Homo sapiens: one gene and its partner. The protein of the gene in region 1 interacts with the protein of each later gene in a pairwise test. Each region holds a gene or a part of one and is shown on either strand. Other genes may lie near its edges.

The links.
Region 2: the proteins of PTAFR (region 1) and SERINC5 interact in a two-hybrid assay, tested with the Homo sapiens proteins (one large-scale study listed by BioGRID and IntAct).

Annotation. Positions count from the first base shown.
Region 1 is NC_000001.11:28,173,788-28,178,239, forward strand, and holds the start of PTAFR (platelet-activating factor receptor), read right to left. Parts: upstream 2,904-4,452; 5' UTR 2,805-2,903; intron 1-2,804. UniProt on the Homo sapiens protein: Receptor for platelet activating factor, a chemotactic phospholipid mediator that possesses potent inflammatory, smooth-muscle contractile and hypotensive activity.
Region 2 is NC_000005.10:80,144,515-80,148,324, forward strand, and holds part of SERINC5 (serine incorporator 5), read right to left. Parts: intron 2,771-3,810; coding exon 2,731-2,770; intron 1,721-2,730; coding exon 1,576-1,720; intron 1-1,575.

The DNA of each region.
Region 1 (4,452 bases):
AGGGGTGGCTGAGTGGTGATCCTCCCCCTGCATATTCTGTCTCTCTCTCACACACAAACACACAAACAAATACACACACAGAATCTGGCTGTGATTCCCCTCGGCCAAAGACACACAGAGGCATATCAGCCTCTCAGCTGGCTTTGCTGGCCATCTGCTCCTGGGAGGGGAGCTGTCTGGCTGGAGCAGGCCACATGCAGCCCGGATATGCTCCCGGCCCATCATTCCAGATACATGTAGACATAGCCAGAGCCAGCTCCCTGTCCACCCCACATAACCACAGACACACATGCACACACAAAGACACACCAGAGGCTTCTCCCCGCTCTCATCATGCTGTCAAGGAGCCCAAGAGGGGGTGGTCAGAGAGGGGGCTGCAGCAGGGTCCCAGCACTTGCCCTTTGGGAGCTGGCTCTGCTCCCGACCCAGACACACACCCCTAGGCCCATCAAGGGGTGCTGCCGGCTCCTGCTCCACTGTTGCCCTCTCTGAGGTCCAAGCCTCCACCCATCTAGGGGATCAGAACAGGAAAGTGGGGGATGCCACCAAGAAAGAGAATGCCATCCTCTTCAACAAGGCCTCCTTCACAGGCCTGGGGTGGGAAGTGGGGAATCTCTGCTCCCTGTAAAAGGACAATAAGATCCCAGCCTCTCCTCATACCTGCTTCCCACCACCAGTCAGAGAAAACTCAGTCCTGTAGGCACATTTTGTCACTGATAGCATAAACTGTGAATTCCTTACTCCTTCAATGACCAGATGGGGAAACTGAGGCCCGGAGATGAGAAAGGATTTTCCCAAGGTGAACACAGTGTCAGGGGCAGAGCTGGGACCAGATACTGGGCCTCTGGCTCACCGTCCGTTCCCTTCCAACTGCAAAAACCGCTTCATCATTCATCTGTCCTGTGCATATTCTAAGCATATGCTATGTTGCAAACCCTGTGCTAAGGATAAAGGATACAACAGTGAACAAAACAGTTTCCTCATCCCTAAGGCGTTTAACAGCAGGAATCCCAGAGTCAGCATTAGAGGGAATTCATCAGTCCCCTTTGCGCAGCATTTTCCAATTGACAAAGCACTTCCCCATCCCAACTCTTACTTCATCCTCCCTGCAAACTCACAGATCAGTGGTTTGTTTGTTTTGTTTTGTTTTGTTTTTTGAGACGGAGTCTCGCTCTGTTGCCCAGGCTGGAGTGCGATGGCGCCATCTCAGCTCACTGCAACCTCCGCCTCCCAGGTTCAAGCAATTCTCCTGCCTCAGCCTCCCGAGTAGCACCCGCCACCACGCCCAGCTAATTTTTGTATTTTTAGTAGAGATGGGGTTTCACCATGTTCGCCAGGATGGTCTCCATCTCTTGACCTCGTGATCTACCCGCCTCGGCCTCCTAAAGTGCTGGGATTACAGACGTGAGCCACCATGCCCGGCCCACAGAGGTCAGTATTTTAACCTGCAATCTGCAAAGGAGGAAAGTGGAACTTCCGAACAACTCAAGGCCCCGGCTTGTCAGCAGGAGCTGAGATCGAAACCCCGGATGCCCACCTGAGGCCCAGGACCCAGTCATCTAAGGGGCTGAACTCTTTCTCCGGCGGTTTGTCAGCACCTAAAGATAGTGGTGTCTCTTTTGCTTCTCTAGCACTCCCCAACACACCTCCCACCCCTACCGCCTCCCCCAACACACACACCACCCCAAACACCTGGAACACAGCTGGGTATTCAGTCAGAGCTAAAGGAGAGCAGCCAGAGGTGTGGGGAGAGAGCCTGCTGGTTCTGTCATATTTCACAAGTGAGTGAGTGCACAGCCCCATGTCTGGACCTCCTGCAAGCAGAGGACGGTGGGTGCCAGCCTGGGCCCTGTCCCCAGCACCTGGGACCTGATAGGGGCTATTGTTTGTGGGCTTGGCCCTGTGTATAAGAACCTGGTTATTTTCAGCACCCCCTTCCCCACCCCGCAAACCTAGCATTTAGTGAGTTCCTAAGTACCCCGCCCTGTACCAGATCCTTTATATGACCCGACAATTCTGTGGGGGAGATGGGATTATCATTATTTGACAATTTAGAAAACTGCACAGAGATGGAGCGTAACTTGGCCAAGACCACACAGCTAGTCAAGTAGATGTCATTTGGCTCCCTGAGATCCAAGCTGCCCCCATCACCACCATCACCACCTCCCAGTAGGGTCTCTGGGGTCAGCACTGCCACCATCACCACCATCAACACCTCCCAGTGGGATCTCTGGGGTCAGCACTGCCCCAGCCTCAGAAAAGCCAAACTTGGGTGTTGGGTTCTCCAGGAATGTTTGGACACTAGAAGTTATTTCTAAACATGAGACTCTGGGCCTGAGAAAGGTGCCAGAAAAATCCCTTAAAAACAGAAGCAGCCGAGCACAGTGACTCAAGCCTGCAATCCCAGCACTTTGGGAGGCCGAGGCAGGCTGATTGCTTGAGCCCAGGAGTTAGAGACCAGTCTGGGCAACAAGGCAAGACCTCGTCTCCACAAAAAATACAAAAATTAGCCAGGCGTGGTAGAGCATGCCTCTAGTCCCAGATACTCGGGAGGCTGAAGTGGGAGGATCACCTGAGCCTGGCAGGTCCAGGCTGCAGCGAGCCATGATCGCGCCACTGCACTTCTGCCTGGACAACAGAGTGAGAGACCCTGTCTCAAAAAAAAAAAAAAAAAAAAAGAAAAGAAAAGAAATAGAAGCACCCATCTGCTTAGGTGCAGCCTGGGGGCATGACCTTGGTTTGCCTCCTGAGGACATTTTTATATGCCTCCCCCTTGCCCAGCAGGGGCCAGGATTCCCCCTTACCTGTAGCAGGGGCAGCGGCTTCAGCTGCAGTGACCGTGTGTCTCTGTCTGGGTCCTGGCCCCAGCCTCAGCCTCTATGCTGTCTGGCAATTGCAGAAGTGAAGAAACAGAGCGTATCACTACCAAGTCACCCCTGGGAGGAAATGCTGTGGCCCTAGGGCCTCTCAAGGGGTACCACAGGAACTTCCAAGCTGGGCCGCCAGGACCTGGGCACTGCACAGAGGCTTCTCAAAGAGCGAGGGATGGGGTGGGGTGTAGACAGCGCCCGAGGCCAGGAGCTAAGGTGAGAAAGAGGAAAAGCAAGAGAGAGAAAGCAAGTGCATGTACTCAAGAGAGCGAAAAAGGGAGCATGAGAGTGAGAAAGAGGAGGGAGGAGAGATGAGGGACCAGGAAAATCAAAGGAGAAAGGGAGGAGGCAGGAGGGAGTCGGGAAAAAAAATGAGAGGGCGGAGGAATGGATGGAGGGAGCGAGGCTCAGGGAAAAAGACAGATGTAAACACCGGGAGAGATGAGAGGAACAAGGAGATTCAGGGACAAAGACAAGGTAAGATCCAAGACAAAAGACGAGATGACAAGACACAGACAGCGAGCATGTGCCTGTGCACATTTGGGTCTGTGCGTCTCTGGATGGGGGTGAGAGAGAAAATAAAAGAAGGGGAGTGGAGGAAAGAGAATGCCCGCTGGGATATAAAGTGGAGGGAGAAGAGAGGAGCTCGGAAGAGCCACTGTGGTCAGGGGCATGACAGGGCAGGGCCTCCCTGGAGACCAAGAAACATTGAGCCCAGAAACCCCATGGGAACAGATCTGTGGGGGTGGAGGTGGAAGCTCCCTGAGACCGTGTTTTGTAGAGATAGGGTCTCCCTGTTTTGCCTAGGTTGGTCTCAAACTCCTGGGCTCAAGGGATCCTTCCGCCTCAGCTTCCCAAAGTGTTGGGATTACAGGCATGAGCCACTGAGCCTGGCCCTGTGTTTGTTTTTTTGTTCATGCGGTTGATTTCTGGAGAGAACTGGCTCCATTGTCCAGTAGAATGTTCTATATTCTGGACTTGGTTGATTGCTTCCTTGTGAGGTCCTTTAATCTATTCCTCTGTCTCCTGTATTTTCTGAAAACAGGTTTGATTAGATTCAAATTTGGACATACTTTCTTCTTTTTTTTTTTCACCCAGGCTGGTGTGGGTTGGCAGCGTATGAGTTCATGGGAGCATGCAGGTGAAGAGGGGTGGACAATCGATGGTGAATGCACATGAATCTCTGAGTGTAGGTGTGAGGGTATGTGTGAAAGTGAGCTGGTGGGGGCATCCCGTGTGCATAAGTGAGAGGTGAGCCAGAGTATCTGCCTCAGTTTCCAGTCCATTTACCCACTCATTCCTTCAACCAACCAACAAGCACCATCTGAGCACCCCCAGGCACCAGGCACTGGGGTGGACCCTGTCTAAAGAAGCAAGTCCCTCAGATACATCAGCCGACCCAACAACCTCCTACACAGAGAGGGAAACTGAGGTCCCGACAGGACCAGGGTCCCACAGCAAGGCAGGTATAAGGAGAGTCGGGGGCCTGCATCAGCATCCAGTCTCAGCTCCGCTCTGGGTATCTGGGCCAGGCTCCTCCTCCTAATGTCCCTTATCAAAGCCAAAAATGGCTCTCAAAGGA
Region 2 (3,810 bases), on another chromosome or scaffold:
TCTGCCTTTTTAATTATAGCCTTCTCCATCTTTTCTTAAGCTTTCCAAGCCAAAAATTCCCAGGAGTTCCCAAAGCATCACTGGGAAGCATTAAAGCTCCCTTCTCCTCTCCTCCTTCAGGAAGAATCTCTCCAATCACTGTGCTTGAAACCACCACTCCCACCACCCCTACCCCAATTCCCTCTCCTAATTTTATTTTTCTCCCCAATACTCATCACCATCTAACACACCATATTTGACTTGCGTCATAGTCTGTCTCTCCTGCTGGACTATAAATCCTGCCTCATAGAACCGTGTGGCACATAGGAGCCACTTGCACATCTGTTGAATGAATGATAAAAGGAAGCACAATGAGCCTACATGTCTAAGCTTAACTTAGTGGTCAAAAAAATTATGATACAACCAAAGCTGTGGACCTGTAGAAAAAGTATGAACCTCTGTGTAGTGCCAGGGAAGGCCAGGTCAATCATGTACTGCCAAGTTAAAAAAAAAAAAGCCTCCAGGGGAAAACATGTATAATGACATTTATGTTAAAAAAAAAATTAGCTGGACATGGTGGATCATGCCTATAATCTCAGCACTTTGGGAGGCTGAGGCAGGTGGATCACAAGGTCAGGAGTTCGAGACCAGCCTAGCCAATATGGTGAAACTCCGTCTCTACTAAAAATAATAAAAAAAAAAATTAGCCAGTGTGGTGGCAGCACCTGTAATCCCAGCTACTCAAAAGGCTGAGGCAGGAGAATCACTTGAACCCAGGGGCGGAGGTTGCAGTGAGCCGAGATTGCGCCACTGCACTCCAGCCTGGGTGACAAAGCAAGACTCCAACTAAAAACAAAAAAAAACTACAGAGGTTTATAAATGCACAGAAAAGGAGAAGGATACACATCCTAGCAGTGGTTATCTGTGTGGGGGAAGTAGAGGCGGGGGGGTACCACATTGTTACTTTTCATAATTCCACATTTAGTTTGTATTTTAAAAAAAGATGTTTCCAATTTTTGTAATGAAAATGAAGAAAAATGGGGAAAAAGATACACAAAATTTGAAGTAGAAAAAAAAGGGATATTTTCTCTTTCTGAAAGGCAGATGAATGCTTAGGAGTTCCTATTTTTCCTTCATTACCATGTTTTCCAGACTGTCCATATAGAGCTAACTTTCCATTTTCTTAAAGTTGCCATAAGCATCACCAGTTTCCAGGGTTAAAACATACCCATCCACTGTTAAAACTCAGAACTCGCTTGTAATCCCAGCACTTTGAGAGGCCAAGGCAGGTGGATCACTTGAGGTCAGGAGTTCAAGACCAGCCTGGCCAACATGGCAAAACCCCGTCTCAACTAAAAATATAAAAATTAGCTAGGCATGGTGGTACATGCATGTAATCCCAGCTACTCGGGAGGCTGAGGCACAAGAATCGCTTGAACCTGGGAAGCAGAGGTTGCAGTGAGCCAGGATCGTGCCACTGCACTCCAGCCTGGGCAACAGAGTGAGACTCCTTCTCAAACAAACAAACACGAACAGTACTTAACTCTTAACTTTAAGGCTTTGCTTCAAAAATACCTAAGCAAATGGGCCACTCACTTGAACCAGTTGGTGACGGTCATCATCACATACAGGGAAGCTAGGAAGAACACGAAGTGGAAGTAGGAGTAGATGTAGACGGTGCCTTTCTTCTCGTCATAAATGACCCGTGGTCCCTCCTTCCCCGGCTGCTGCTCTTCAGTGTCTGTGAAGCACAGAGGGAGCCCAGGCTCAATGAGTGAATGTGTGTGTTTACCATTCAGCAAAGTCACGCTCGCTAATTCTACAGGGCTGTCAGTAGAAAAGATGCCAGAAAGCCATCTGTACCCTCTGGCAACTTCAATCTGTGCCCTAAGCACAAAACCCCCACTCCACCCTAGCAACTTCCGTAACAGGAAGAGTTACCTAATGCCACATTTATTTTTATTTATTTATTTTTTGAGATGGAGTTTCACTCTTTTTGCCCCGGCTGGAGTACAGTGGCATGATCTTGGGTCACTGCAACCTCCACCTCCCAGGTTCAAGCGATTCTCCTGCCTCAGCCTCCCAAGTAGCTGGGATTACAGGCACACGCCACCACGCCCGGCTAATTTTGTATTGTTTTTTAGTAGAGACAGGGTTTTGCCATGTTGGCCAGGCTGGTCTCGAACTCCTGACCTCAGGTGATCCACCCACCTCAGCCTCCCGAAGTGCTGGGATTACAGGCATAAGCCACCGTGCCTGCCCTGCCACATTTATTTTAACAGAAAGAGAACCCTTAAAAACCCTTAAAGACGTAAAACTTACTATAAGCTCAGCAGAAAGTGAGAGTAAAACAAGAGTTAGTTCTCAAGCCCTTGGAATCCTCCAATCCACCTTGGAAAGTAAGGTGAAGGAATGAAATGGCCCCAAAATAAGGTGTCAGGACCTCTTGGTATTTTCCAAATCACTCCTTTTTAAAAAATGTGCTCTCTGATTCTCTAAATCTCACTGTATAATTTAACTTACATTTAAACCAAAATTTGGACTGATTCTCTCTACCAGAATACCAACACAAACAAAACTCAGCTATCCTTCAGGAAGAATGTGAAAAGTGTATAAGTAGTAAGTCAGCTTTAGAATAAAACTTTCTCCTTACTATTCAAGTTATTTGTGTCTGAATCCCAAATGACTACAGATTAGAGTTATAGGTCTGCAGTGCCACACAGGTGCAAAGAATAAAAGCGCTCTGCTTACCCTCTCCACCAGGACTGAAGCAAAAACAACAGCGAGCTATCTGTGAAAGCAAAAGCAACAGTCAGGCGGCTTGTGTTCTATTTCTAGTCCACCTCAGCAAGACAACAGTAACCCTTATTTGAACCACCTCCCAGGCCCTTCAAAAGATGTGGACTGTTCTTTCCCAGGTGTGCTGGGTGTTGGTGACAGGAAACCCCATGGAGGGAGATGTGCCACAGAGATCCTCATCCGTGGACTTGGTGCTCGCTCCTGCTACCATGAATGCTGAGAGCAGAGCCTCGAGACAGGAGCTCCTTTACCCTTCCTGGGTAACTGCCATGGAATGGCTGATCATGGCAGGGGTAAAGGCCGTGCCTTTATGGCTCCTAGGGTTAGGGAGGCTTTGTCCAGCTGCACTGTCCTTCAACTTCACCCTCTGCCCAATTTTGCCTCCCCTTCCCCTTCTCCCTCCCACATGTGCTGACTTTTAATAAATATCCCACGCAACAAACTGCCTCAGCCTCTGCTTCTGGAGAACTCAATGTGAAACCCAATGAACGTGACAAGAGCCCCACTCTCCTGGTGCTCCCTTCTCGTGCTTTGCTTTCAATGTTATTTCATTAAACCCTCTTTGACCTTTGCATTGGGCTTATTATTATCCTGTGTACAGCTGAGGAAACTGAGGTCAGGCAGGTTAACTGGCCAAAGTCACCAAACTAGCTTAGTGACAGAGCTGGAACAGACGAATGCAGGATGGGGACACCAAGATCCATGATTCACAATAGGTAACACGTGGTATCTAGGAGCTTGGCGAAGCTGGTAGGATCTGAAATAGTAAAGTGAAGGAATCTGGAAGCAGCCTACCCATGTTTCCTATCAAAATCAAGCTGTTGCACGGGCCGTGGGCAGGGATGGAGGGAATGCTTGCCTTTGAAGCATCTCTGGTACCTTGCGTATTTTTTATTCTTTTTTTTTTTTTTTTTTGAGATGGAGATTTGCTCTTATTGCCCAGGCTGGAGTGCAATGGCACGATCTCGGCTCACTGCAACCTCTGCCTCCTGGGTTCAAGCAATTATCCTGCCTCAGCCTCCCAAGTAGCTG